2 separate regions of the Homo sapiens genome follow, and region 1 is linked to region 2. The links come from fine-mapping of genetic effects on gene expression. A gene starts in region 2. The other region holds a variant in brackets. All regions are shown on one strand. Distances are between the middles of the regions. Region 1 overlaps ACAT1 (acetyl-CoA acetyltransferase 1). Region 2 holds the start of NPAT (nuclear protein, coactivator of histone transcription).

Region 1 (15,153 bases), 68 kb after region 2:
GGAATGGGATATTGACAGAATCTGAAAGCATGACCTGCACTTTCATTGTACTGAAACTTCACTTTATATCTAAATCATGCTGTTTCTGAAACAGCTTCCTAGTTTGTAAATAGACTTACTTGGTATATTTTTATTTTGGGAAAAACGTTTGCAGAAATGTAAGTAAAGCCAATCTGCAAAACTGTATAGCTTTGACAATTCCATATTGTAAATACTGTGTAAATCTTGTTGAAATAGAGGTTAAATCAACCTAATGTTCTTACACTGTGTTTTTTGACTTCTTATGATCCCTAATTCTGAGACTTACTCATCTGGAATAGTTTCTCACTTGTTTTGGAGGAAAATGATGCTTATTCTTATAAATTACCTTCAGTAACTATTCAATAAGACATTTAAATACACAATCACTAAGTACTACAAAATAATAACCACCTCAACTGATAGCAAAATATCTAATTAGAAATCAACAGTTTGATGAGTTTTTTTCCTAGAGTGAATACTACCCCTTTCTTATAATTGCTGTAAGTATTATATTTCTGGAATTTCACACTTTACCTACTCTGATCACTCTGTTCTCTTTGTTTTAAAGAGAGAATTTTGTAAACCATTTATTGAATGTTCTGATCTTTCATTTATAACTTAAGATTTTTTACAGAACTTTAAGTGGTTAGACTATTGAGCCATAAAATTTTGGTTTGTAGTAGAGATTTCTCGGTATGTACTTTTCCCCTAAATGCTGGGGATTTAAAGAATTGCACTAATTCATAGAACTCTTTACATTGTAGTGACCAATGCACATATAATTTAAATCTTGTGTTCTATGTGAGAGTTTATGTGGAGGATTATCTTCTGGTGTTGTGTCCATCATAAGATGTAAAAAGAGAAATCATAGTTTTATATTTTAGTTTCTCCTACAATGGGTATGTTAAATAACTATATCTATACTTAGATATAGTGCATTGTCTGTGTCCCTTAAAGTGTTACAAAGAGTTTCTCTCAAAAGGTCCTTAAGGAGAGTGAGAGATGAGAGAGGTGCCTTCTCTGTATTAGACTCACACACATCAGTCCAGTTGAAGAATTGGTTTAAACTTTTAAATGAGAACAGAAATTATAATTAGTACCTGACCAATTGTGCCTAGATATTAAAGTATGTTCTCTTTAGTACTTTCCGTTCAATTAAATATCAGTATATTAGGGATTTTTTTCTACAGGTGTATATTTTGTTGAAGAGTCACTTTCCTCAACCATTTTTTTGTACTGGGCCTTTAAAAAAATAAATCCATCCAACTTTAACACAACATTTCTCAGTGTAGAAATCATGTCTTCTTAATTGCTGAACCTTACTGCAAAAACTTGTGATGTAAGAAATTTGTATGGTGTGGCAGTGGTCTATTCCTAAGGAACTAAATATCATATAGTTAATGTTTATTTAACTCAGCTTGAGACTGTACTACAGTTAGGTTTGAATAAATATTTTCATTAACTTCAAAAGTTTGAATTACTTTACATTGGCAGTCTTGTTTAGAAACTGATTAAATTCCTTTGCAAGTCAGTTCTTTTTGGGAGTTTGTACAATGCTGAAAATCACAGTTTTCTTCTTATTCAATTCATAGTTGTATGTACTAAGCACTGAAAATTCATATACAAATAAAATAAGTTTACTTTCTTCAAGATTCATAGTTAACTAACCAGGAACTGCTAAGTAAAGTTGAAAGATAACTTGTACTTGGAGCTTTTATGTTCAAGAGCAAAATCATATCCCCATTTTACCTTAAAAGTCCACAGGTCCTGAACTTAATTATACTATTGTACCTGGTAACCTATTTGAATACTTAAATGCCCAGTGACTGCATTTCAGGGTTGATGTATACTACAACAATCCATGGCTGTTTTTATAATTACATATGAGGATCCAGTCTGTTGTTTGGATATTACTTAGAGGTTAATGCAGTCAGTGTATGCCAAATCTGAGAAGTGTTGTTAAGTAAAATCTTGTTACAGATTTAGCCCTGGATATATTAGAACTATAGTGTGTTGAAATTGCGCATAAGAAAAGCATCCATCAGCATTCATGCAAAGGCTACATGTCATGACTATTAGGAGTAATTTCAAAAGCATATTACTATATATTCTGCATTCATCCTTTCTCTGGTCATCATCTTTTAGGCTCAGGCCCAGCTTTCTGAAATTACATAAGTTTTGACTTTATTATTAGTTATTTTGCTGCTTCCTTTAAGCAATGGACTCATTGTGTACTTTTTTCTTTTTATAAATGTTATCATTTTGTCATACTTTTGTCTTTTTTTCGTAAATTTGTATCTACATTGTTGAACACATGGTACATATAGCTTCCTAATGCTTTTTGTTTTGTTTTTTTTTTTTTTTTTTGAGAGAGGGTCTCACTCTGTTGCAGGCTGAAGTACAGTGGCACAATCATGGCTCACTGCAGCCTCGATCTCCCAGGCTCAAGTGATCCTCCTACCTCAGCCTCCCGAGTAGCTGGGACCACAGACATATCCCATCGCACCCAGTTTTTTGGGTTTTTTTGGTTTTTTTGTTTTTTGTTTTTTGTTTTTGTCTTTCAGAGAGATGGGGTCTCACTATGTTGCCCAGGATGATATCAAACTCTTGGACTCAAGCAGTCCTCCTGCCTCGGCCTCCCAGGTGTTGGGATTACAGGCATGTGAGCCACCTCATCCAGCTGCTGCTTTTACTTCCAATAATATAAAGCTTTTTCCTTTTTTTAGCTATTACAAACAAAAACAGCAGTGAGCATTTTTATAAACATTTGTTTATGTTAACTATTTCCTTAGAAATTTTAGAGAGTAGAATTACCAAATCAAGAAGTTAGTGTACCTTTTTTTAAGGATCTCAGTACATTTTGCCATATGCTGCTATTAAACTTGCGTCAATTTACATTTCTACCAGCAAATTGTCATTTTTTTGCATAGCATATGCTTATCCATTTCCAGAGGCATATTCACCTATATCATCACCTGTTTCTAGGTTTGTGTTTCCTGATTTGGTAAAATTAGGAGTTAGCTCCTAATCCATTTGTTACTTGTTTTGGTACCTGATATGAAAAAAGGGTCAATGTACATTTTTTCCCTAAATATTTAACTGCTTGACAATTTGTTCACTTGACAATTTAACCACTGCACAGTTTGTTCAGATAAGCTTTCCTTTCCCCTGCTCATTTATTTAAGATGTCTGTCTTATCCTACACTGATTAACAATCTCTTATTCACAATTCTAAAACCCAAAAGGTTCCGGCAACCAATTTTTTTCCCCTAGATTTAACATCAGAACTCATTCTGTGGCAAACCTGACCTGAAATGACACGAGGCTACTTAACAGTCTTTATCTCATTTATAGTAATGTTGATTAGTCTGCTGTTCCAGACTCAACTGGGGGGCATATGGTGCATACATTTGAGTTATTTTTTAGAAATCCAAAATATTCTGATTTATGAACCCCAGCTAACCCCAAAGGTGTGTATGATCAAAGATTTTGGACTTGTATTAAATGTACACACATATATACACACTATATGGTATGTGTATCGTCTATTCTGTGCCACTGATTAAATCATTATAACTTTTGTGTCCACTGTTACTGTTTTTGTTTTTTCAAGTATTCACCCTTTTATGCTTCCTGGTGAACTTTAGAATCACTTGAATTATTTCAGGTTAAATTTCTATTGGAATATTTGAACTACATTAATGTCATAAGCTAATTCATAAAGAAGCAAAGGGTAACGATCATATGGTATGTATCAAAGTGTTATAGTTATCCCTATCAGAAATTTCTTGCTAAACTGGATGTTTTTGTTTGTTACTATTTTTAGAAAGCTCTTCATTTCATAGTTTTAACTGGTTATTGCTGTTATGTAGGGATGGTCTTGCTTTATTAATATAAAATTTTTATGGAGACACATAAAGAGAAAAGTGCACCACTATAAATTCATGCCCTTCAGTGAATTTTCTTTAAGTAAATACATCCACATAATCACTTTGAACATTACCAGTACCCTAGAGTAGTCATTATTGTGACTTCTGGCACCAGAGATTTAGCTTTGTTTTCCTTAACGATATCAGTGGATACATGGAGTATATAATCTGTGAGAAACACTCGTTTTGTATAATTCAGCTCAGTCATGCTCAATGCTGTGTATATATTCATTGTATTATATTACAGTTAATCCATTTTATAGATGGTAAAAGGTGCTTATTGTGAACAGACTGTGCTGTGAACATTCTTGCACATTTTTTTATGAATGCATTACACTTCTCAGTTGGATAAATACTTAGGAATAGGGTTGCTGGAACACAGTTGCATATATTCAGACATTCAGATTTTTTCATTTTCCAGAATGGTTGTAACAACTTATGCTGCACTCAACAGTATAATAAGTTCTCGATACTCTGTGTTATTTCTGATGTTAGATATTTTCATTTAGCCATTTTAGTGGTGTGTATTGGTATATGTTTTGGTTTTAATTTGGTGTTGGTTTTTTGGGTTTTGTTTTTTTTTTAATGAAGTTGAAAACCTTTTCAAATACTATTTGGGTTATCTTTTGTGGACAGTCCAAGGTTTTTGCCCATTTTAGTATTGGGTGTCTGCCTTTTTCTTACTGATTTTTACGTGTTCTTTCTGTATTCTGGATACAGGTCCTTTTTCGGATGGATGTTAGGTGTCTGAGTATTCTCCCTTGTTATTCTTCTGAAAGCGTTATGGTTCAACCTATTTCATTTTGATTTGACCATCTATCTGGAATTGATTTTCCACATTGATATACAATTAACCCACACTATTTATTACCAAAGATTATCCTTTCCCAACTACATTGCACAGTTACTTTTCTCATAAGCTGGTAAATGTGTAGGTTTGTTTCTGGACTCTATGCTGTTCCATTGGTCTGCTTTCTTTAAGATGTGCTAATAACACACTGTCTTAATTAATGTTGAAAATCTTTTTTTTTTTTTTTTTGAGATAGTCTCACTCTGTCGCCCAGGCCAGAGGGCATTGGTGTCATCTCTGGTGACTGTAACCTCCGCCTCCCAGGTTCAAGCAATTCTCCTTCCTGAGCCTCCTCAGTAGCTGGGATTACAGTTGTGCGCCACCACACCCAGTTAATTTTTGTATTTTTAGTAGAGACAGGGTTTCACCATATTGTCCAGGCTGGTCTTGAACTCCTGACCTCAGGTGATTCACCCACCTCAGCCTCCCGAGGTGCTGGGATTACAGGCGTGAGCCACTGTGCCAGTCCCAAAATCTTTTATATTTTAGTTCTATTTATTTTCTATACTGAGTGAAGTCTGTTAGTACTAATGGATTTACCAGTGCTACTTTTTAATTTGTGAAGTATTATCTGTAAATAATTATTTTCCAATTTTATTTATTTTTACTACACTGATATTAGCACTTCCAGTGCAACTAATAATGATCAAAGTCTGCTTCATTGTCTTGTTCCCCATTTTAATGGCAATGTTAGGTATAATGTTTGCTTTTATTAAGTATAATGTTTGCTTTTGTTGGTAGAGTTTTACGATTTTACATCAGAAGTACCTGTTCAACTTAATTGCCACGTTTAAGCATCAATTAAAATATTTTCATTGAACTCATGAATTTCTTTTTATATTAGTGATTATTTTAAGTAAGTTTGCTTTGTGAATATTTTATTTAAATGTTTTTGGTTTTTGTTTTTGAGACAAGGTCTTGCTATATTGCCCAGGCTAGAGTGCAGTGGCTGTTCATGGGCACAGTCATAGCCCACTATAGCCTTGAACTACTGGGCTCAAAGGATCCTCCTGCCTCAACTTCATGAGTAGCTGGGACTACAAGTGCACACCAACACACCCAATGAAAAGTTTACTTTTAATGAGATTGGTTTCAAACTTATGCCAGTTTTTAAAATGAATTTTAAACCTTTCCTTCTTTTTCTAGTTTATTTGAATATTGGGGATAATAAATAGTACCAGTGCTAAAGTGTGAAGTTTAAATTGTACAATATATGTAAAAGCACTTAGATTAATGCCTGGAACATAATAAGCACTTTAAGAACTAGTTGCTATTATAGCTGATGCTGTTTTTTATTTCTTTTTTCTGCAACAGTTTATTTAGAATGAGAAATAACTGTTCCTTGAGACTAAATCACTACTAAATTATCTAGGCCTGGAGCCTTTTGCTTAAGCAGTTTTCCATTTTTTTTTCTCCTAAATTTCTTCCTGGCTGATTATCTATTCAGGCTTTGACCTTTTTTTTCCTGAGTCAAATATCACATTTTTTTTAATTTTGGCTTTTGTTCTCTAAGATACAATTAACTTTTTTCTGTCAAAAACACTTCTTAGATTCAACAGTTGTATAGGAGCCTATTCTTTGTGCTTCCTACTTTCTCAGGGTCCTTTTTGCATGTTTATTTAACTTAAATTAATAAACAGTTATCTGATTTTTTTTTCCCCTTCTTAAACCATGTAAGCATTTAAGGCTGTGAATTTGCTTCTGATTTCAACTTTCAGCAAAATTTGGGTAAGTACTTTTAATATTCATACATAACTATTTACAATAAATGATACCAGGCTCTTTTTTGCCTAAAATTTTTATTATTGTGGTCAGGATAAGTTGCAGGTTTTATAAATGTTGCACGGGGGCTTAGAAATAGGTAATGTTGGCTGGGCATGGTGGCTCACACCTGTAATCCCAGCACTTTGGGAGGCCAAGGCAGGCAGATCACTTGAGCCCAGGAGTTCGAGACCAACCTGGGCAACATGATGAAACCCCCATCTCTACCAAAAATTAGCCAGGCATGGTAGTATGCACCTGTGGTCCTAGCTACCAGGGAGGCTGAGGTGGGTGTATCACTTGAGCCCAGGAAGTCAAGGCTGCAGTGAGATGAGACCATGCCACTGCACTACAACCTGGGCAACAGAGCAAGACCCTATCTCAAAAAAAAAGTTAAAAAAGAAATAGGTATTGTTTAGAAAGGTAAAGTTTGATATGTATTCAGTCTTATACTGTTTGAATCCTGTCTTTGCTTTAATACTTTTTTCACAAGTGTTTGTTTAATCCATGAAACATTATTATCTTGGTCATAGCTTTGGCTTTTTTTCTGCCAAAAAAAAAAGTACAAAGTAGACCATCATAAAAAGTAGTTCTTTCCCCATTTTAACAGTTTCTGCCTTCTCATAATTTATGATACATGCAACCCTTTTTACTTTTTTTTTTTTTTTTTTTTTTTTTTTTTTTTTTTGAGACAGAGTTTCGCTCTTGTTGCCCAGGCTAGAGTGCAGTGGCATGATCTCAGCTCACCACAACCTCCACCTCCCTGGCCCAAACGATTCTCCTGCCTCAGCCTCCCACGTAGCTGGGATTACGGGTATGCACGACCACGCCCGGCTAATTTTGTACTTTTAGTAGAGACGGGTTTTCTCCATGTTGGCCAAGCTGGTCTTCGAACTCCTGACCTCAGATGATCCACCTGCCTCGGCCTCCAAAAATGCTGGGATTACAGGCGTGAGCCACCTCGCCCAGCCTCTTTTTACTTTATTATTGGATTTTAAAGCTGTTGTCTTATAGTAACTTAAGATATGGAACTGTAACCATAACAGGTCCATTGCCCATTGTGCATGACAAGTCAGTATGTAAGACCCTGGGCTGCAGCAAAGAAAGATGTTTAATTGCAGGGCCACCGAATGAGGAGACTGGAGGAAACTTCAAATCTCTCCCCGAGGGTTTAGGAAGTGGGCCAAGGTGCAGCCTGTTTAGTGCCTAGTTATAACTATATTTCTGTCCAGGACCCAGCATGCAATTCTTGTAAGTCCCGTGAGGGCAGTCTCAGAACTTGTCCTACTAGCGTTTACCTTTATTTAGCAGATAAAGATAACATGTTACCGATATTTCACCATGTAAAGGCCAAGGGAAACCAGGAGGTAGGTGTAAAACACAAGAAAAAAAAGGAAAATACAAGGAAAAAAGGAAACTCAACATATTTTAGAATACTTCACTGAAGGTAAGTAGTGCATCCAAAGGTTGGTGATCTGGAAAACATTTGAAAAGTGCTCTGAAAATTCTGGGGAAAAAATGGAAAGGAAGAGAAAAAATAGAGAACCAGAAAGTAAATGGTATTTCTTTTCTTTGTTTAAGAGACAAGGTCTCCCTCTGTCCCCCAGTACAGTGGCAGGATCATTTCACTGTAACCTTGAAGTTCCCCTTGGCCCTCTGAAGGTTTGCTGGAAAATAAAGCTGTTTGCAAAAGGCAGATTAATTGGAGAAAAGGAATATACATTTATTTAATGTTGTATACATGGGGGCCTTCAGACAAAGACCTGACCCCGCCCCCAGTGGGGTGTAGAAACTTTTTTTTTTTTTTTTTTTTGAGACAGTCTCACTCTGTTGCCCAGGCTAGAGTCCAATGGTGTGATCTTGGCTCACTGCAACCTCTGCCTCCTGGGTTGAAGCGATTCTTCCACCTCAGCCTCCTGAGTTGCAGGGACTACAGGCATGCGCCACCACGACCGGCTAATTTTTGTATTTATAGTAGAGACAGGGTTTCACCATGTTGGCCAGACTGCTGTCGAACTTCTTACCTCAGGTGAGCTGCCCATCTGGGCCTCTCAAAAGTGCCAGGATTACAGACATGAGCCCCTGTGTCCGGCCAGGTGTAGGAACTTTATACCATCTTCAGGTTACAGAAGTAATGTGAGCTCCCAGCATGGCCAAAAACATGTTATTTTGGTAAATCAGGTTTTAGTGGCAACACAGGTTACGGGTAGGGAAAGGAGACCTGGCTAGGAAAGGTGGTCTTGTTAGAAGCTTTCTGAGAGAATGGATGTTAAATGTTTAAGACCTTTAAAGGTGTCAGACAGGCTCTCATTTAACCTTTTCTAGATTCCAGACAAGGGAAGTCCTGGCTGCATTAATGGAGATTCTCCATAGACGCAGATTTCTTTCAAAAAAGACAGCTTTGCAGCACCACTTCTGTTTGCTGGCCCTCTGATAGCCATCTCAAAATATGTCAAATAAATATAATTTGAGGTAAAACATTTTTATTTCCTTCAACCACTACCTTTCCTTCTTCCCCAGCCAGTCCTTAAGCAGTCATTTAAAAAATTAGAAACTTTCACCTAACTGAATTCTTAATTCTTCATTCCATGGGCTTGCCTAAACCTTTGTCATTTTTGGAGGAAACATCAGAGTACTTTATTTTCTAAACTTTTCTGTGTTTGAGACACACCTTTTAGTATCTTATTTTGTTTCATTAAAAACAGTTAGATGTCCTGTCACTTGTTTTCTTGGATTGAATGTAATAGAAATAAGAACTGTGGCTACCTATTTTTCTAACTAGATGTTAGAGGAATTTAATACATTTTCTCCAGAATGTCTTAGTATGATTTTCTGCTAATTAATTTTGCCAATAAAATATGCTCTTTAGGGCTGGGCGTGGTGGCTCATGCCTATAATCCCAGCACTTCGGGAGGCCGAGGCAGAAGGATCACCTGAAGTCAGGAGTTCGAGACCAGCCAGGCCTACATGGCAAAACTCTTCTCTCTACTGAAAATAAAATAGCTAGGTTTGGTGGCGCATGCCTGTATACTCAGGAGGCTGAGGCACGAGAATCGCTTGAACCCAGGGAGCGGAGGTTGCAGTGAGCCAAGATCGTGCCACTGCATTCCAGCCTGAGCTACGAAGCAAAACTCTGTCTCAAAAAAGAAAAAAAAAAAATGCTCTTTAAAATCTTCCCCCTTAGGACTTAAAAATCTGAGTTTTTCTATTATCTTTATGTTTTCTGTTATATTAAATTATTGCTTCAGAGTATCTTTTTTTTTTTTTTTAGGAAACACCATTTAAGCTGTGCATGGTAGCATGTGCCTATAGTCCTAACTACTCAGGAGGCTGAGGGAGGCAGATCACTTGAGAACCCAGGAGTTCAAGGTTACAGTGAGCTATGGTCATGCCACTGCACTCCAGCCCAGGCGACAGAGCAATACCTTATCTCTTTAAAACAAATTAAAAAACCTACTTACTTGATTCTCTGTTTCTTCTCTCTTTTCCATTTTTTCCCAGAATTGTCAGAGCACTTCTCAGATGTTTTCCAGATCAATGACCTTTGGATGCAATGTTAGTTTCTGCTTATCTTCAATGAAGTATTCTCATGTTTTGGGTTTCCTTTTCTCCTATATCTTATCCAGCTCCTGGTTCAGTTAGAAGTTTTTGTAAGTCGGGGCAGATAATTATTGAAAGGCATTTAACTAAAGCATAGTAAGTTAAGAACGTGGGCTCTGGAGCTTGACTAACTTGGAGTTGAATCCTAGCCAGCTTTTTGCCCTTGGAATTTATTTAGCTACTCTATGCCTCAATTTCCTTGTTTATAAAGGAGGGATAATAATGGTACCCACTCTTAGAAGTTTTTGTGACAATTAAATGAGTTTATACATATAAAGCACATAACAAGCCTCAAAAGTTGGTGATGATTACAGATGTTTTTGAAAATACTCTACTCTTCCTCTGAATCTGAAGAGCAATCTAATCTATTTCTCCCATATATTGTCATTTTGCTCCTTCAAAAGATCTACAATACATTATTTGCCAACAGATAATGTGTACACAATGACCTTTACTGCCCCCTCCTCTTCCTGAGGGGGAGTTTTCCCTCTTCAGAGCTGCAATTGAGGGTAGTGTGCATAGCCCCTGCCTGTAGCGTTTTAATTAATTAATTTTTTCCCAGATAAAATGCAATGCGAGATACTTCTGTTACAGTCTGTCCTGCTTAAGAACAGGCATTGTCGTGTATTGGAAGTGGTGATCTGTTCCCTTTTTTATATATCCATTCAGCATATCAGTTTCTACCTCCCTTCCCACTCTCTATGCTGCTATAGTAATTCAGAGCCCAAACTCCAGGGTTTTCTGCTTGACCTCCCCCAACCCTGAATGTTGAGGTTATAAGAAATTGCCCCCACTCTAGACCCTGAGGACATGGGCTTCTGTCTTGTTTCTAGTACTGCTGCACACACTGTGGTTTGAGTGATTATATGAAGCACTGCTAGTTTGTCCAGAATAGCCAACTCTTACTGTAAAGAGAAGTAATTTAATTTACCGTAATTTACTAAATGTAAATTACCTATAAAGAGCATTCACTTGACCTTTAACAATCCTCAAAAATATAAATGTGTTCTCACAAATGGAAACTTCTAGCTACTTATGTAAGTCACTAATATTACACATTGGTATTTCTACCATATTTCGATAAGTATAGACTCAGAATGCAAAAATGTATCAAACTTTTCAAGGTTACCAAGAAAAAAGCAGAAGAAGAAATTTA[TTTTTAA/A]TTTCAAAATGTTTTGGGATTTCATCATTTTGATTTTTAAAAGTTAACATAGAAAATAATAAAAAATGAAACAGCTTATCTGAATATAAGCTGACCCACAGTAGTCACACTGATTACAGCAGGCCTTCTGGTCACATAGGGTTGTCTCCTTAAATAGCAGAGGTTGTCTACAGCTTCTGAATTAGCATGGCAGAAGCACCTCCTCCTCCATTGCAAATACTGGCAAGACCGTATTCTCCTTGCTTCAAGGCATGAGTCAAATGACCAACAATCCTGGCTCCAGACATCCTAAAATTAAGAAAGCATTTACTTCTTTAATGAAGTACAGAATTTATGACTAACCAAAATGTTTCTATTCCAATTTAACTTCTTGAAAACCTTACTAGCCACTACTACTTGCTGAATTAACTACTACTATTCTAAAACTAAAACTTGGAGGACTTGTTTCAGGAAGGGTCACAGATCTTAGATCATTTTTTGAGATGGAGTCTCGCTCTGTCGCCAGGCTGGAGTGCAATGGCAGAATCTCAGCTCACTGCAACATCCACCTCCTGGGTTCAAGCGATTCTCCTGCCTCAGCCTCCCAAGTAGCTGGGACTACAGGCGTGCACCACCACACCCAGCTAATTTTCGTATTTTTAGTAGAGACAGGGTTTCGCCATGTTGGCCAGGATGGCCTCTATCTCTTGACCTCGTGATCTGTTCACCTCAGCCTCCCAAAGTGCTAGGATTACAGGCGTGAGCCACCGTGCCTGGCCAGGTCACAGATCTTTTAAAAGTACAGAACAGTATAATGGATAGAAGAGTAGAGTATAATGGAAGAGGGATGTGGGATAAACTACATATTGGGTGACTGACAGGTGCACTGAAATCAGCCCCCACCACTATAAATTCATCCATGTAACCAAAACCCACGGTACCCTAAAGCTAATGAAATAAATAGGAAGGAGAAAAAGGGGGTAAAAAGTCTAAATGTACACTTTTTCTTCTTCAGCATAAAACATTATTAGGTTTCAAATAACAGATGTGACAGGTCTCTGTTCAGTATTGGATACCATCTATCAGAAATGGTTTTTGCCTTATGAAAGATGGGTAGGAAGGAAAACTTAAGAGCAATGGGAATTATGAAGCAGTTTTAAGTTTAGCTAGAAACACAAAGGCAGCTCTTAACCTAGATATAGTTATTATTTTTACCTACCCAATTGGATGTCCCAGAGAAACAGCTCCTCCATTGATATTCACTTTTTGGGGATCAATCTCCAACATTTTAATGTTTGCTAGTACAACCAGACTAAAGGCTTCATTTACTTCCCACATTGCAATATCTTCTTTTTTCAATCCCACATCTTTAAGAACCTTAAATTTTTTAAAAGACAGATGATGTTCAAATAATTAGCAATCACAACTTACTGTCATCATTTCCTTGAAATACTACAGTTTGACATAAGTTATTTAAATATGGAAGTTCTTGGTTTCAGATGGAAGGATCTCTATTTTCAGATTTTTTTTTTTTCCAACAGTCTTGCTCTGTCTCCCAGGCTGGAGTGCAATGGCGCCATCTTGGCTCACTATAACCTCTGCCTCCCAGGTTCAAGCAGTTCTCCTGTCTCAGCCTCCTGAGTAGCTGGGATTACAGATGCCCACCACCATGCCCAGCTAATTTTTTGTATTTTTAGTAGAGACAGGGTTTCACCATGTTTGGCCAGGCTGGTCTCAAACTCCTGACCTCAGGTGATCTGCTCACTTCAGCCTCCCAAAGTGCTGGGATTACAGGCGTGAGCCACCGCACCCGGCCCATTTTCAGATTTTTAGTTGCTCATCTTATTCCATTATATCAAAGAATTTTGTTTGCATTATGTCTGTTTTGACATAGGGGACAGAAAATTTGATTTTCTTTCCACAGATATTTGAAAAGGTACATTTTCTATTTAGGGGCACATAATGCTTTATATATTCTTAAGCTCTGCTTTACTGATTGTGTGTTGCTTGGTTCTATATTCTTTTTTGTTGTTGTTGATTTATTTTGAGACAGGGTCTTGCTCTGTCACCCAGGCTGAAGTGGAATGGCACAGTCATGGCCCACTGCAGCCTTGACCTCCCAGGCTCAAGCGATCTGCCTCCCAAAGCGCTGGGATTACAGGCGAGCGCCACTGCACCCAGCCATTTCTATGTTCTTGACTGTTAATGAAAGAGGTATATTAGTTTCTAATATTAGTGATATTAATGCATCCCCTGCAGTTTCTGCTTTATAAATGTTACTGTAGGGTTATCTGGGCCACAGATATTTACATCTGTTGCAGTTTCATTGTAAGTCATTTATTTAAAATCTTACACTATATGATCTGTTTTGTTTTGGTAGTTCCTCAGCTATGCAGGAAGGTGTATTTGTGCCAGTGATTATCCCTATGCTAATACTTTTTAAAACATTACTAGTGAGTGCCCTAAAACATTACTAGTGAGTGCCCTTTTTCTTTACAGAAGAAATTTGATTGTTGTGAGCGATAATAAAATTAACGTGGAACTCTTCCTCCATCTTCCTCTCTTCTACTAGTGGACTAAGGGTAGCTTTCTAGCCTATACAGCTCAAACAGCTTCCACTGTTCCAACAACACAAAACAAAATATGGTACCCATATATAGCTATGTCTGTAGCTCTCAGAAGTTATTCTACCTTCAGAATCCAGAATTGTTTATTACCCTTGCTTTCCAACGTGATGTTACTCACTTTCAGAAGCTGCGTGTTCCTTTCATTTTCTGAGATCTGCTAGCTCTGAGCAGATCATCACTCCACTGGCCCCTTGTTTCTGATCTTCTCTATTCTTGTTTCCTACTGATTCTGCAGTTTTTTTTTTCATTGCGGGGGTTGGGGGCAGTGGGGAGAATCTGATTTTACTAAAATTCTGCAATTTTTTTTATCTGGGTGCTTACAGAAGTTTACTGTCAGGGTGAGGCCCTCTCAAAAGGAAATATTTACTTAAGATTTCTAAGAACCCTGAACCCCTAAAACTTTCTTTTCCTGTGACTGCTTAGCAATTTCCCACTGAGACTTGGATAGCCCTTACTGACAATTTGGAATATGTAGGTTTTCTGTCTCTAGTTTTACTATTTACTCTGAAGACCTGCTGCCAGCTGTTCCCTTTCAGAATGGAGTCCTCTCCTGGGGAGTGACTAGTTGCTTTCCATTCTAGATCTGGAACCATCAGCCAGCATTCCCTCCGCTTTGTGGTTACCACACCAGGTGTGTGAGTTCTGTATGATACTTACAAGTAATTCAGATGTGTAGTTTTACCTGTTCTACTGAAGATGTAGTTTGTGAGCTGTTCTTTATTTTTTTTTTTTTGTTTGTTATCCTTGTTGCTCTTACTCTTTTCAGGAGAAGACATGGGAAGATTTGAAACCAAGCTATCTCTCTGCTTTGGCAGATAACATTTAAAATCTTAAAAACTGCAACCTTGGTATAAGCAAACCAGAAGCTAGCATAATGGAGTATCGCCCCTCACTTTGTTCTCACCATAGATGCAGCATATACAGGAGCAATTGGAAAATCAATAGGTTCTACAGCAGCGTCAGCAAATGCTGTTTAAAAAAAGGGGGGGGGGGGTTGTTAAAATCTTTTTTTTTTTACTGTATAGAATATGCACAAGCCAAGTTTAGCCCATTAAATGCACATTTCCTAGCCCCTTTAATATATGTAAATATATGTCTTCCTTTTCTAGGATTCTACACTTTATAAAATTACTCCAGTAATCTAAGACACTGATTTTCATTGGGGGGGAGTTTGGGGGTATTTGCCTCTAGGAACATTGGCACCACCTAGAGATGTTTTTGGTT
Region 2 (16,247 bases):
GAAGGCTCTGCGGGGCGGGAGATGGGGGAAGTATATTTACTTTTTATTACTCTGAGACCAAAGAAACATGACATTTAAATTGAGACATGAAAGATGAATAGAAAACAGCCAGGTAAATAAGGAAATGAGCACTCAAGGATTTAACATTGACAATGAACTATTTAAAAGCACTCTTGGCCAGGCGTGGTAGTGTGCTCTTGTAGTCCCAGCTACTCAGGAGGCTGAGGTAGGAGAATCGCTTGAACCCAGGAGGCAGAGGTTGCAGTGAGCGGAGATCGCGCCACTGCACTCCAGCCTGGTGACAGAGCAAGACTCCGTCTCAAAGAAAAAAAAAAAAGCACTCTTGCTTATATGGAGAGACATGTCATTTTGCTGAGCCAAAGGCTTAAAACATGCTTTGGAGCTGATAAGTAGGAGGTTATCAGAGCTAGTAAGCTTTGTCTACCACTTCCATCTCAACTGGTATTAAGGTTCTTATTTAACACATAACAATAGGAGTAAAATGACATTTCTGTTTTAAAAGGAAATGAAGCAAATTCTATGCTATGGTGGTATCCTTTGCAAATATCAAGGATCAACTATATTTTACTATGCCTTGATTCCACTGAGTAGCTCTCTTCTTTTGGGGGCTTCTGATATAATCAAACTCTCTTTTGATGTCCTTCAAAAAAATGTAGTAAGAACAGCATTTCAACATGGACACAAAGATGGGAAGAACAGAGACTGGGGACTGTTTGAGGGTTGGAAAGAAAGGGAGGTATGGCTTGAAGGGCTACCTATCAGGTACTATGCTCACTACCTGAGTGACAGGATCATTCGTACACCAAGCCTCAGCAACATGCAATTTACCCATGTAACAAACCCGCACATCTACCCACAGAACCTAAAGTAAAATAGAAAAGAAAAAAAAAGAAACAGCATTCTGTTTTACTAGTTCTGATCTAAACCTTTATATAATACAAAGAAGTTTTTTATTAAACTATGAATGTCTGTAAACAGAGAAAAAATACATATATTTATGTATATTATACCTACAAATAACTATATCTCAAGAAGTAAAAAGGTAGGGAAAGTCCTTCTCCTATCCATCCATCTAAATTCTACTTAATCTTTCAAGATTAAGTATGTTTCTCTGCCCCGATTCAATCTCACAGAATCTCAAAATTGGGAGGAACTAAAAGACCAGGTCCAATCTTCCTATGAAGGAAGGAATGTCTCTTACAAAATGAATGCCCTGTCTTTGAATATTCTCAGTAAGAGCTGACTACCGGGGCTAGGCGTGGTGGCTCATGCCTGTAATCCCAGCACTCTGGGAGGCCGAGGTGGGCGTTCCACGAGGTCAGGAGTTCGAGACCAGCCAGCCTGGCCAACATCGTGAAACCCCGTCTCTACTAAAAATACAAAAATTAACCAGGTGTGGTAGCATGTGCCTGCAATCCTAGCTACTGGGGAGACTGAGGTAGGAGACTCACTTGAACCCAGGAGGCGGAAAGTGCAGTTAGCTGAGATCACGCAATTGCACTCCAGCATGGGCGACAGAGCGAGACTGTCTCAAAACAAAACAAGACAAAAAAAACAAAAAGAGCTGACTACCCATTTTATTAGCAGATGGCTCTGATTCTCTTCTCCTTTTATATTCACTGGTGGTTCTTCTGACTTCCCCCATCCCCCAACACTATTACAACTTCCGCTTTACTCTGCTATAGATTACAGATTGTTATTTGAGTTCTTTTCATTTGATTATATACTTCCTGTGGACAAGTATTATCATTTTTGTTTTTCCATTCCTTATGGTTTTATCTAGGAATCTTCTTACTTCTTCAATCTCAGTTTAAAGCCCTCTTGAGTCAATAAGGAAAATGAAACTGGTAATCTAACCAATGAAAATACCTTAGCAATATCCAAAGAACCATAAGGTTTGGCACCTTTATTCCTAAATATACTAAAGATTTGACACTTCCCGGAAGAGGCAGCCCTAAACTTGACTTTTTTTTCCCCATGGTGTGACTTCCTTGAACTTGTTTTTCTTACCTTCAGCTTAATGATTACTTTGAAGAAAACAAAACAGTTCAGTATTATCTACATAAACAGAAGATGCTCATTCACTGATAGATGCAAACAATATTTACTACTTATAGCTAGACAAATAATGAACTAAACAGATACAAATCCTACCCTCATGAAGTCATATCTGGGCAGCAGGGTGACAATAAACAAGTAAATTGATAAACCAATGCATAATTCCAAATTGTGATGTATGCCTCTGAGGAAACAAAAACACAGTAATAGAAAATAACTGTAGAGAGAATCATTTTAGATAAACTGTCAGGGAACATATATCTCAGAGGAGTTTATAATAAAGCCAAGATCTGAACTAACTGGTGCCAATCAAAAAAAGGGCTAGAGGACCAACACTTCAGGGAAGGAGACTAGCATAGCCAAAGGGTTCTACAATGTTAAAGAACACAGTATGTTGGCGGAACTGAAAGAAGGCAGAGGAACTATTAGGTAGTCAACTAGAGTATGAGTGTCACCATATAAAGATGAACTTCATTTATACATTAATCCAGAATATCTAGGTTCCACTCAAGGTTCAAACGAAAAGATAAGGATTTCCTACTTCCTACGAGCCTCTGAATTGACGAATTCAGTGTTCCTTTTTAGATCTCAACCAAGTTGACCCCTTTGCACAACTTGACAATGACGCTTATATCCCATCTTCCTAGAAATAACTCTGCCCTTGGCATGCCATTCTTTTCTAGTGCTAAGGAGTGTGGCCTCTGTAGTCAGATTGTATTAGTTCAAATCCTGGTTCAGCCACTTACAAACTGTATAATCTAGAGCAAGTTCACTAATCTCTTCAAACCTCAGTTTCTCAATGATAAAAGGAAAAACAATACTAGTACCTACCTCTATGAGTCCCTTTAAGGACCCATATACATGCTTACAGTGCCTGAAACACAGCAAATGTTAGCAATGATCATATTAACTTCCGTTATGACTGTTTCGAAAGTCTCCTGATATCTCTTCTTCCGCTCATACCTCAAAAACAGCTTTGTTTTCTTGGTCTCATCCATTCCTATGACTTCAGCAGCTGAAAACCCACAAAATATATTTCATTCAATGCCAGGCCTCACGCTGGAGCTTCAGGGTCCTTCTACACTTTGTGCCTTTACACGCATTTTTCCTTCCATCTGGAAGGCTTCTACCATCTGCCAAGGTAACACTGCGAGGTCTCACCACAAACTGAATTGATAGTCTCAGGCTGAGTTTGCAGAGAACCAAAGTCACTCCTCTACCATCAGAGTACTCCCCTATCACCACATACATTATCATCCACTGTAGTTGTCTTATCTGTACCTGGTAAATACAGCAGCTAACGCTCACGAGTGCTCACCACAGGTCAAGATTATCTCACTTATCTTCACAAGACAGTAGAGAGCGGCCACACGACTGACAGAATTCCAATTCCAGCCGTATGATTCCAGAGCCCAAGCTCTTAACCGCGAGGCTGAAGTTGAAATATCAATAAATGCTCGCTGACTAAAAGTACTAAATACGAGAGAGAGATCAAAAGATGACTAGTCAAGTCGCGTAGTTAAATCTGAACCCTAAGGTGACACAAAAAGAGGATGCGCAGGAGGCAGGGTTCAATTCAGGGCGTTTAAAAGGAGGAGGTTATTGGCCAAGTCCGCTAAGCACCCGGAGAGAGGCCAGGAAAGATGGAGTGAGGAGAGGGAGGAGTCAAGGGCCACTCTGGAGGGGTGCATGAGATTGGCGGTCTGGGGAGAGGACAGACTGGGTCGCACACGACTGAATTTCCCAGCGCAGAAGCCGCTGCGTTGCCTCCGCGCCCCTACCACTGCACTCGGAAGGTCAAAGTAGTATCAACCGCGGCGGTGGCTGCAGCGCAGATCCCGACTCCTCTCGCCTCCTCCCGCGGCCACGGCTTCTTTTCTCCGTTAGCCACGCAGCTACCTACTCCCGCTTCCGGTTCAAACCCTGCGTGACTGCCCAGCGCCCACTTCTGGAGGAAGAAGCAACGCCAAGCAGCCGCAGAGCACGGTATGCCCATGCGCATCCAGTATCACGCGGTCTCCGCGCTCAAAACACTGCCCCAAAACATTCGGCCCGTCGGAGCAAACGCGCCTGCGCCATGTCCACCAATGGCCAGCGACTTAGCGTTTGCGGCTCGCCCTTCGGCTCGGGCTCCGGGGCTCTCACCCACCCTCTTCGCCCTCGTCGTCCTCCCCGCCCTCCTCATCCCCGCCCCTCCAAGTCTGAGGACGGAAGTGACGACAGTTCCGAAGGCGAACGGAGGCGGGTTTCATTTCGGCGCCTTTCTTTCTCTGGCGGAAGCGATTGGCTGCCGTGAAGCGAAAGAGGCGGGACAAATTGCCGCGAGTTCAGTGCCGCCACTGGAACCAGGAGATGCGGCGCAGGAGCTGTCGCTGTGTTTGCTTTAACCTGAGTCTTGTTCCTTATTGTGGTTCCTGCTGTGGTTTTGATCATGTTGTTACCCTCGGACGTAGCCCGGCTTGTATTGGGTAAGCGCGGACGCGGGATGGAGGGTTATTGGACCCGGCTATGCTGGACAGAAGGACCTTTGAGGCCAAAGGTTTTCCCTTGGTAGGGAAGCTTTGGGGTTTTGCCTCCCAGCTTACGAGTTGAGACTGGCGGTGATTCTTCGTCATTCGGAGGTTCTGGGCAGTTTAAGCCTCTTTGTATGTAGATGCTCCTCTCTTCAGAGGCTGCGTGGCGAGGGGAAGCCCGAGGGGAAGCTCGGGGTGGAACACCTGGGGCGGATTCGGAAGGAAAGTCAGGCCTCCACACTTAATTAGGACCCCTGAAAGAGCATTTGTCTGCATGACGGACGGATTGCGTGTGCTTCAACCTTGGGCGCAATTTCCTTGGTTCAGTGTTGGGACCAAAATAGGGCAAATAGGGAGTTCCCCGGCCCCCCATCTTTGTAGAGAGACCTTCCTGGCGCCCTTCTAATAACCCGCCCTTATAACTACGAATTTGGGAGTAGGGGTGATCTTCCTTCTCCATCCTCCACGCAATACGTCGTCCAGTGTAGAGGTGTGAAATGCCAGTTGCATATTTTAAAACAGCAATTCCTGTTCCTTTGATCAGCGAAAAATTTCAGAGGGTTAATTGCCTTAAATTAGTTGAACGTTTTCTAGCCCTAGTTTTACCTTCATTTGAGGAGGGATTGTTTGTGGGTCACTTGTCTGTCAGGGTGTATTGTCTGTGTGAGAGACGGGTTTTGTTGTTGTTTGTCCCCTGAAAGAATAAAGAGGATTGTACTACAGGGGACGAGAGCCAGGTAAAGCTCAAAACCCGAGCCAGTAATTTACGGACGTCGTATGCGACGTCCCTAAAAGTAAATGGCAAGCATCTGTGATGAAACCTCCCATAGTATTCACAGCCATTACTACTATTATTTTATTGTTCGGAAAACCCATTTGTCTTGTGCCTCTTTTAAATGCCCAGCGCTGTCCACAAAAATGTTATTTGCGCAGGGCTCTTGATAAGCACATTTTGCAGGAAACGTTAAACGGAAATGGTTCCACCATCCATTTTTGAAGAAACTTAATGACAAGTTTAATGTTTTGTTAATGTCTGATTAATCTTTTGCTTAAGAATTCTGAGTTTTGGCAGTTTGGTAATCTAGTTGAGTTTCGGTAACTATAGTCTTAAACATGGTTTCTCAGCCTCAGTACTGTTAACATTTTGGGCCTCATAATTCTTTATTGTGGGGAGCTATCCTGTGCTCAAACATTGTAGGATGTTTAGCAGCATTCCTGGCTTCTATTCACTAGATTACAGTAGGACACCCGTTCCCCACCCTACCCTTACCCAGTTGTGATCAGTGAAAATGTCTCTAGATATTGCTAGTATGTCCCCTGGAGGGCAGAATCACCCCTAGTTAAGAAAGCCCTAAGAAAGCAGTATCATTTTCTAATTGAAATAATTCACATCGATGTGTGAGTATTCTTTCTCCACAAACCAGCTACTCTGCTGACTTCCTGCTTTTCATTTAATGGACAAAAAACGCCAGCCATGGTTTTCTTATCTTAAAAATCTTTGTCATTCACATTCCATTTTCACTGCCACCAATCCCGCAATGTGCCTGCCATTACTTCTCTTTTGGACTTCTGTCATGGCTTCCCAGACAGTTGTCCTCGCAATTCATTTTATTTACTGTTGTTACAAATCTCCCTGAAGCTTTCACACTATACCTTTTAGTCTGAAAGTTGAGATAATTCTATTCTTACTAAAAATTTCAGATGGGCAGGAGTATACAATACAAAAAAGCCTCCCCATGCCTAATGCTCTTACTTTTGTCGTTTATCATTTTACATCTTAAATAGATACATATCGTGTATATCTTTCTCATATGAGGTTTATTATTTACTCATGATTCTTTTCCTATCAGTACCCCCTCGCCATCTTCAGCTCCTCTTGTTATTGGTCCCTTCATAATGTTTTTTTTCTAGCAAATCTTTGGGTGCCTAGTATGTTCCAAACACTGTGCCAATTGCTGAACATAGAGAAGTTAAGTTTTCTCCCCTTAGTGTTCAGATAATTAGGTTTTTTTTAAATTCTTAAACATACACACAAAAAAACACTTTTCTGGACCCCACTAGACATTAGACACCCATTAAACAGAACATTCTGTCTTATGTTCTGTGTCACCCTTTCACAAGTCAAATTTATTCAAAGAACAATGAATTCCACTTAGTTGCTGTTCTTCACCTACCTTTTATCCTTCAGGATACTGCACTCTGACTTTTGCATCTCACTACTCCACTTAAGTAGCCCTTATTGCCTTGCTGGGATTTTACAAAATGTTGTGTGGGCCAGAATACATCAAAGTGTTTGTTGCCTCTGGGCCATCAGTTCAGTTTTTATCTATTTATTCAAGGTGCTCTGTGGAACTGATCCTACCTACCTCTCCAACTTGATCTCAACTTCCTAACATCTGTTTTATGCTGCAGACATGCCAAACGAATTGAAGTTTCTTTGAAAATTCTTGTATGTATTCTACTTCTCTTTGTCTTCCTAGTACACTTCTATTCAAGGTTCAGGTCATGCCTGATCTCTGAAACTTCATTCAGCAAGTACAGTCAGTACTTCTTAAATGTTGCCATAGCATTGTACTTCTGTTACAACCTTATCATGTCTCATTGTAGATGTGTGTTTACTTTTTTTTGATAAAATATACTAACAAAATTCAACACTTAAAAATGTATAGTTCTTAAAGCCCAAAACAATGAGTTTGTTGTTGTTGTTGTTGTTGTTGTTGTTTGTTTTTAATGTACAGATCAGTAGTGTTAACTATATTGACATTTTTCTGCAACCATCACTACCATCAGTTTCTGGAACTTTTTCATCTTCCCAATTTGAAACTTACTTGGTTTTTTGTTTTATTAGTAGTCTTAGTCATGGATGAATGGACAAGCTTCAAGAGTTCTGGGAGTCCCCAAAACTATCATCTGTGAAGGTTTTCTTGAATAGATTTGTTACCTTCTGTATGAGACAGCATGCAGTAAAAAAAGTAGAAACCATTCTGAGTATTTAACATGGAAAGATTTAATGAGAGAATTCGTTTACACTGGTGAGAGAAAAGCTAAGACGCCCAGCAGCTTACAACTAAGGCATCTCAGTGGTTAGCAACAGTAGGAAGCCACTATGCTAATGAGAAGGATAAGGAGAGAGGAAGCAATCAAGAGGCTGGTTTGACTGCGGAACGTGGAAGACTTGTCTGATGAGGGAGTGGTAGTCTTAGAGGAGACTCTACTGAGGCAGAAAGGGAATGGGGGAAAAATATGGCTGCTTCCTCCTGCCCTCCAGCCTCCCACCAGTGCTTCCTATTTACTGAGCCCAGCCAGTAGCAGGCCGACAGAAGAGCTTGGGGAACATTGCCTATATAGAGTCAAGCTTTATGTCATACAGTAGAGAGCGACAGAAGGGTCAAGAACGTGTTTGAGGTCAAACAGGACCAAAACTGACACACCCCTAACAGGTCAAGAGCTGCTGGTTCTATTCACCTTTATATCACCAAAACATAGATATTTAATAAAACATTTGCAAAAGTATGGCTCTGATTATGACACTCCTTTGTTTATTTAATAATATATGTACTCATTGCTGTCTAAAACTTTTCATGATCCTTACCCATTTTGTCTTTTCTGTTGTATCTCCAACTGTTACCCTTCATAAACCTTGTGCTGCATCCAAACTGGACATGTTCCCCAAATATGATTGCATATATACTTTCTGTCAGCTTCTTTGGGATTCCCAACCATCCTTCAGTACTCATCTGCACCTTCAAACATCACATAATTTCCAAGCTTAGTAGTGGTTTCTCCAGCCCCTCCCTTCCCATGAAGTGAGTCAGCTCTATTTTCTTACCATTTTTGCTTTGCATTACAGTTATTTGTGTATATATCTTCTATCTCCAAGTAAATTGTAACTTTATAGACAGAAACCTTGTCCCTGTTATTTGTGGATCTAGTAATATAAGACAACATAAGGTACGGCTTCCTAAGAATTATTTGCATGCTTAACGAACATTAAATTACTAATCTTTCTAGGAAATAATAAAATATGTGAAGGAGATGTTTTCACATAGCGTGCTTTACTATCTCTTGCTTGCTTTAAACCTCTCTTTTTATCTTTCCCTCTCTACAAGTAGGAAGAAAAAATACCCTTCATATAGTTAGGATCTTATCCTTTCTTCTCTTTTTCGGTTGTTTCCCCTTCAATTCATTTAGTTACTCATTACCACCTCCACTTATAATAAAAGTAGGCTGAAGATAATATTATGTTAAGAAGGAAACTCAGGCATACTTTCTTACCTATTCGGGGACCTTTGTCAGTAAGTTTACACAAAAAAATACACTTCTTTTATTCTTAAGTTGTTTTTAGGAATAAAAGGAAAAAACAGTAATAACTAATATTAGTTGTAGAATAACGATTTGTATTATACTGATAAGAGATGATTAGTGCCTAGTTTGTATTTTCTATTTTATTTATTTATTTCTTGAGACAGAATTGCACTCTTGTCATCCAGGCTGGGTGCAGCAGTGAGATCTTGGCTTACTGCAACCTCTGCCTCCCAGGTTCAAGTGATTCTCCTGCCTCAGCCTCTGAAGTAGCTGGGATTACAGGCGCTCACCACCACGCCCGGCTAATTTTTGTATTTTTAGTAGAGACTGGGTTTCACCATATTGGCCAGGCTGTTCTGGAACTCCTGACCTCAAGTGATCCATGCGCCTCGGCCTCCCAAAGTGCTGGGATTATAGCCATGAGCCACTGTGCCCAGCCAGTATTTTCATCATATTTGGATTTTCATTCATCTAACACCAGAGATTTAGAATTAATTTGTGCCTAAAATTTCCTGTTACCTGACTGAGAATTGGTTATAGTCAGATACTTAATGATGATAAATAAACATTTTGTAGGCAGATACTAATCATATATATATAGTAAGGCCTAATTTAATAGGTTCAATAGGTTCTTGAAAACTGCAACTTTAAGCAAAATGATATATAATCAAACTAATTTTACCATAGGCTAACTGATATATACAAGAATTTCTTCAGCATATTTTTGGTCACAAAAATATCACCACACTTGTAAATAAAGTCCAAAACACTTCTAATATTAAACATTGAAATACATGTAAGCTATATATACATTTAAGATGGATTAATAAAAACAAGATAATTACTTACCCAGTTAGTCCAGTTCAAGGTTGCAGGTAGCTAGAGCCTATCCCAGCAGCTTAGGGTGCAAGGCAGGAACTAACCCTGGGCAGGATGTCATTCTGTTGAAGGGAGCACTCACACGCCCACGTACACTCACTCATGCTCACACTGTAATAATTTAGACACACCAGTTAACAACGTGCACATCTTTGGAGTTTGGGAAGAAACGTGTACCTGGAGAAAACCCATGCAGGCATGGGGAAAATGTGTAAACTCCACACATACAGTGTCCTCAGCCAGAAATTGATTTTTTTCTCTCATCAGCAGTATAACAAAAACATTGAACAAAATGATGGTATTCGAGGACTTGCTATATAATGATCAGTGAACATGAGAGTAGTCAACTATTTACTACATTATTTTGGAACTTTTGGGACAAAAGTAAACCAGAATACATCAAATCTAATCTAAAATGAGAACTCAAGATTGCCAAAGTTGGGGCATGTTGTTAAGAGCAGAAGATAATGTATCCTAGATATTACTATTTTGAGATACATTATAACTTAAACACTTATTATAGAGGTAATCTAGCTTTTAACAGCCCCATCTCATGTGTGTGCTATACAGAGGTATAATGTTTTATGAAATGCCATGAATTATCTGTAATGATTCCAGGTTATGCTAGCACAAATGACAATATTTTTCTGAAAAAGGTTTACTGTGTATCACTGTATTCTGTCTGGGGCATTGTTTCTCAACCTTTATTTCATTACACAACTTTAAGGAATCTTCTTAGGCTTTTTTTTTTTCCCTGACCCTCCTCTCCTCCCCACACGAAAGTTTAATGTTTTAGTGTCATGAATATATTGTATATGTTTATATATCATGTGTATCTGTGATTTATGCATAAAAAGAGGGAGATTTTCTTCATTCCTCCCTGCCCCAGAACCAATTTTCAGCCTCTTAGGGCAGTATGACTCCTTTTGAGAATGCATGGTCTAGGGGAAAGCAAATCTACTTTAAGATAGATAAAAATCTACTGCAAATCTATAGTAGATTTTAATACCACCGTCTATCAGAAGTCCCCAAGTGACTGAAGGCATCTAGGGTGATAAGTACTTGAAACTCCACCATGAAAAGGAAGTATATTTGAGGTGTTCAATCTAAATCTTGAAGCATATGAGGAAAAAGCTCCAACTGTCCTAATTTTAAGGTGATTCTAATAGTCTGTAGAAGTTTTAAATTTTTGTGTTTACAAAAAGCTAGTAACAGCTAACTCACCTATTCCAAATATTATAACGGTCGGAAAGCCAGCCATCATAAAAATTACTTTTCAGCCAGCTAGTTTTCACAAAAAGAGAAGAAAACATTGCAGTGTATCTTTGATCTAATTAATTTCACATCTGTGGTTTGATGTTCAATGATAGGAAGATTGAAGTCATGTTATCTGAGATAAAGCTTTCTTCAGATATCCAAATGCTTTCTCCAAAACACAATGCCTTTGGTTTTTGATTTGTATATTTGTTTGTTTCTTCTTATTAGTTAGCAAGAGGTTGGAAAACAGATTCATCAACAAGTAGAGAGTGGTGAGTTGATTCCCAAATCACAGCTAGGGCATTGCCTGTAACGAGATGACCATATCCTTGCCCTTTCCTTTTTAAAACCTTAGTGTATAATGACTTTGTAGGCAACCTTATTAGGTTTTTCACCTGTTGGACCTGGTTAACGATACAGTTCCAGGTGAAGAGAGTAGAACGTTATAAAGTTGGAAGAGACGTTAGACATAATTTCTTTTTTTTATCTTTTAAATTCAGGGGTACATGTGCAGGTTTGTTATATAGGTAAACTTGTGTCATAGGGGTTTGTTGTACGTATTATTTCATCACCCAGGTGTTAAGCCTAGAACCCATTAGTTATTTTTCCTGATCCTCTACCTCCTCCCACCCTTCACCTCCAATAGGCCCCAGTGTGTGTTGTTCCCTTTATGTGCCCGTGTGTTCTCATCCTTTAGCTCCCACTTATAATTTCAGTAGCTAACAAATACTTACTGACTATTATGCCAGCACTGAGATAAGTGTACTTCAAAGGAAAATATAAGGGAATACTTATAAGTATTAAGTAATACCTATAAGGGAATATTTAATAGTAGGGAATAGGGAGTAATTATACTAAACTGTGAAGAATGAGTTGAAGATAGCTAGGTTAAGAAAAGATTAGCTGCCCAAGCAAAGGAAATAGAATAAACAATGGCCTTGAAATATAATCAATGTGTATCTGTGGGACTGAAAGACCAGTTTGGCTGGAAGCGATGGAATGGTAAAACATAGGCTGAAGAGGAAATTAGGGTACAAAGCAAGTAGAACCTCATACGACACATTAAAAATTTGAAATCATAGGCCGGGTGCAGTGGCTCACGCGTGTAATCCCAGCACTTTGGGAGGCCGAGGCGGGCAAATCACCTGAGGTCAGGAGTTCCAGACCAGCCTGGCCAACATGGCAAAACCCCATCTCTACTAAAAATATAAAAATTAGCCAGGCATGGTGGCAGGCGTCTGTAATCCCAGCTACTTGGGAGGCTGAGGCAGGAGAATCGCTTGAACCTGGGAGGCAGAGGTTGCAGTGAGCCGAGATTGCATCATTGCACTCCAGCACAGGTGACAAGAGCGGGACTCCATCTCAAAAAAAAAAAAAAAAAATTGGAATCATATTTTTTTATTGAGATATGATGCACATACTACAAAATGTAAACTTCGTTGTTTTTCAGGGTATGAAAATCCAGGATATTTATGGATTCATAATGTGCAGATATCACCAGTAATTTCAATATTTCCATCACTCCAAAGAGAATCCTTATACTATTAAGTCACTTCCAATTCCCCCTTGCCCCGTCCTCTGCCAACCACAAATCTACTTTCTGTATCTATACATGTGCCTTGCCTGGACATTGCACATAAATGAAATAGAATATTTCGCTTTTTGTGTCTGACTTTCACATAGCATAATGTTTTCAGCCTTATTCCATGTTGTAGCAGGTATTAGTACTTCATTCCTTTTTATAGCTGAATATTTCATTATATGAATATGCCATATTTTGTTTGTCCATTCATTAATGGACACTGTTATGAAAAATGCAGGCCAGCTGTAATGGCTCACCCTGTAATCCCAACACTTTGGGAGGCCAAGGCAGGAGGATTGCTTGAAGCCAGGGGAGCGAGACCAGCCTGGGCAGCATACTGAGACACCCCATCTGTACCAATAAGTAAGTAATTAGCTGGGCATTTATTTGGTGGTACATGCCTCTAGTCCTAGCTACTGGGTTGGCTGAAGTGGGAGGATCACTTCAGCCCAGGAGTTCAAGGTTATAGTGAGCTATGATTGAGCCACTCTACTTCAGCCTGGGTGACAGAGCAAGACTCTGTCTCTGAAAAAAAATAAACTGACCATAAATGTCTGGATTCCATGCTTCAGAGTTGACTAGATAAATAAGAAAGGTCTGGATTTTTTATTTTGTTCCACTAATTTCTGTGTCTAACCTCATGCCCGTACATCGTCTGGATTACTGTAGCTTTACAGTAAGTTTTGAAATTGGTAAGTGTAAGTGCTTCAACTTTTTCTTCATTTTCAAGATTATTTTGGCTATTCCAGCCCCCTTGTATTACCTTAGGAGTTTTAGGATGTTTGTCAATTTCTGCACAAAAGGCAGTTGAGATTATGATAGGAATTGTGTTGAATGTATCGGTGAATTTTGGGAGTATTGAGTTTTTAACAATATTGAACCTTTCAGTCCATGAACACAGTATGTCTTTGCGTGGATTTAGGTCTTTAATTTCCTCCAGTGACGTTTTCCAGTTTTTAGTATGCAAGTCCTTTACTTTTGTTAAACTTATTCCTAAGTATTTTATTTCTTTTGATGCTATTGTAACTAGCATTGCATTCTTAATTTTTGGTAGTTCATTGAGATTTATTGACTTTTATATATTCACTGTGTATCCTGCAACCTTGTCGAAGTCATTTATTAGCTCTAATAGTTTTTGTTTTGTTTCGTTTTGTTTTTGGGACAGAGTTTCGCTCTTGTTGCCCAGGCTGGAGTGCAATGGCGCAATCTTGGCTCACCACAACCTCTGCCTCCCGGGTTCAAGCGATTCTCCTGCCTCAGCCTCTGGAATAGCTGGGATTACAGGCATGCATCACCTTGCCCAGCTAACTTTGTATTTTTAGTAGCACCAGGGTTTCTCCATGTTGGTCAGGCTGGTCTCGAACTCCCGACCTCAGGTGATTTGCTGGCCTTGGCCTCCCAAAGTGCTGGATTATAGGCATGAGCCACCATGCCCCGCCCAGGGAGGTTTCTTAACTCCTTTTTTTTTTTTTTTTTTTTTTTTTTTGAGACAGAGTCTTGCTCTGTTGCCCAGGCTGGAGTGCAATGGCACCATCTCGGCTCATTGCAACCTCCACCTCCCTGGTTCAAGTGATTCCCCTGCCTCAGCCTCCCTAGCAGCTGGGATTAAGGTGGACACCACCATGCCTGGCTCATTTTTTTGTATTTTTAGTAGAGACGGGGTTTCACCATGTTGGCCAGACTGGTCTCGAACTCCTGACCTCAGGCAATCTGCCTGCCTTGGCCTCCCAGAGTGCTGGGATTATAGGTATGAGCCGTGGTGCCTGGCCTCTAATAGTTTTTTTGTTGTTGTTGTTGTTGTTTTTTATGGCTTCCTTAGGATTTTCTATATAAGACATGTCATCTGCAAATAGGGGTAATCTTGATTTTTTCCTTTCCAATCTGGATGCTTTTTTTTTTTTTCTTTTGAGACGGAGTCTCTCTCTGTTGCCCAGGCTAGAGTGCAGTGGCCCTATCTCAGCTCACTGCAACCTCCACCTCCCGGATTCAAGCAATTCTCCTGCCTCTGCCTCCTGAGTAGTTGGCATTACAGGCATGCACCACCACACCTGGCTAATTTTTGTATTTTTAGTAGAGACGGGGTTTCACCATGTTGAGCAGGCTGGTCTGGAACTCCTGACCTCAAATGATCCGCCCAGCTCGGCCTCCCAAAGTGCTGGGATTACAGGTGTGAGCCACTGCACCCGGCCTGGATGCTTTTTATTTCAAGTTTTTTCCTAATTGCCCTGGCTAGAGGATACATGCAATGTTGAATAGAAATGACAAGAACAGACCTTCTTACCTTTTCCCTGATCTTATGGGGAAAGGTTTGAATTTTAAACCATTGAAGATGATGTTACTTGGCTTTTTTTTTTTTTAATAGATAACTCTATGAGGTTGAGGAAATTTCTTTTTATTTCTAGTGTTTTTATCATGAAAGGGTGTTGGATTTTGTTTTTTTTGGTTTCTTTGGTAGAGTTTTGTTTTGTTTTGTTTTGCTTTTGAAACAGGTTCTTACTCTGTCATCCAGGCTGGACTGCAGTGGCATGATTATGGCCCACTGCAGCCTCAGCCTCCCAGACTAAAACTATCCTTCTACCTCACCCTCCCAAGTAACTGGAACTATAGGCACATGCCACCATACCCAGCTAAATTTTTAATTTTTTGCAGAGATGGGGGTCTCACTATATTGCCCAGATTGGTTGGATTTTGTTCAGTTCTTTTTCCATGATAATGTGACTTTCGTCTTTTACGTTAGGGATATAGTATATTACACTGATTTATTTTTATTCAACCAACCTTGCATTACTGCATTAAATCCCACTTGGTCATGGTGCATCACTGTTTTTATATGTTGCTGGACTTGATTTGCTAGTATTTTGTTAAGGATTTTTTTTTTTTTTTTTCCTGAAGACAGGGTCTCACTCTGTCACCTATTCTGGAGTGCAGTGGCCCAATCATGGCTCACTGCAGCCTTGACTTCCCAGGCTCAAGTGATCCTCTCATTTCAGCCTCCCAAGTAGCTGGGACCACAGGTGCACACCACCATGTCCAGCTAACTTTTGTATTTTTTGTAGAGATGGCATTTTTGCCATTATGCCCAGGCTGGTCTGGAACTCCTGAGCTCAAGCAATCCTCCTGCCTCGGCCTCCCACAGTGCTGGGATTACAGGCGTGAGCCACTGTGCCCACCCTGTTGAGGACTTTTATGTTCACTTTGTTTCTTTTCTTTTTTTTTTTAGACGGTGTCTCACTCTGTTGCCAAGCTGGAATGCAGTGGCGCGATCTCGGCTCACTGCAACCTCTGACTCCCTGGTTCAAGCGATTCTGTCCCAGCCTCCCGAGTAGCTGGGATTACAGGCACACACCACCAGGCGCAGCTAATTTTTGTATTTGTAGTAGAGATGGGTTTTCACCATGTTGGCCAGGATGGTCTCAATCTCCTGACCTCATGATCCACCCACCTCGGCCTCCCAAAATGCTGGGATTATAGGCATGAGCCATTGACCCTGGCTCCCATGTCCAGTTTCATAAGGATTATTGGCGTGTAGTTTTGTGATGTCTTTCTCTTGTTTTGGTATCAGGGCAATATTGGTCTAAAAGAATGGGTTGAGAAGTCCTCTCCTACTATTTCAAAAAGAGTTTGTAAAGGAT

What was found.
Region 1: its variant is fine-mapped to the expression of NPAT in cerebellum (GTEx, PIP 0.97).

Annotation. Positions count from the first base shown.
Region 1 is chr11:108,143,728-108,158,880 of GRCh38, reverse strand. It overlaps ACAT1 (acetyl-CoA acetyltransferase 1), which reads right to left. Exons shown (of 12, transcript NM_000019.4): 10 at 14,834-14,898; 11 at 12,522-12,679; 12 at 11,278-11,611. The coding sequence ends at 11,491. It overlaps NPAT (nuclear protein, coactivator of histone transcription), which reads left to right. Exons shown (of 18, transcript NM_002519.3): 18 at 1-1,666. Among named protein-coding and RNA genes, the nearest start is that of ACAT1, 30 kb to the right of the region's middle. RefSeq lists a silencer at 7,944-8,112. The variant TTTTTAA/A (reference allele first, on the strand shown) is at 11,318.
Region 2 is chr11:108,210,800-108,227,046 of GRCh38, reverse strand. It overlaps NPAT (nuclear protein, coactivator of histone transcription), which reads left to right and starts at 4,409. Exons shown (of 18, transcript NM_002519.3): 1 at 4,409-4,547. The coding sequence starts at 4,511. It overlaps ATM (ATM serine/threonine kinase), which reads right to left and starts at 3,980. Exons shown (of 63, transcript NM_000051.4): 1 at 3,861-3,980. RefSeq lists enhancers at 1,478-1,597, 3,094-3,143, 3,494-3,573, 3,884-4,043, 4,454-4,513 and 2 more and a cis regulatory region at 8,623.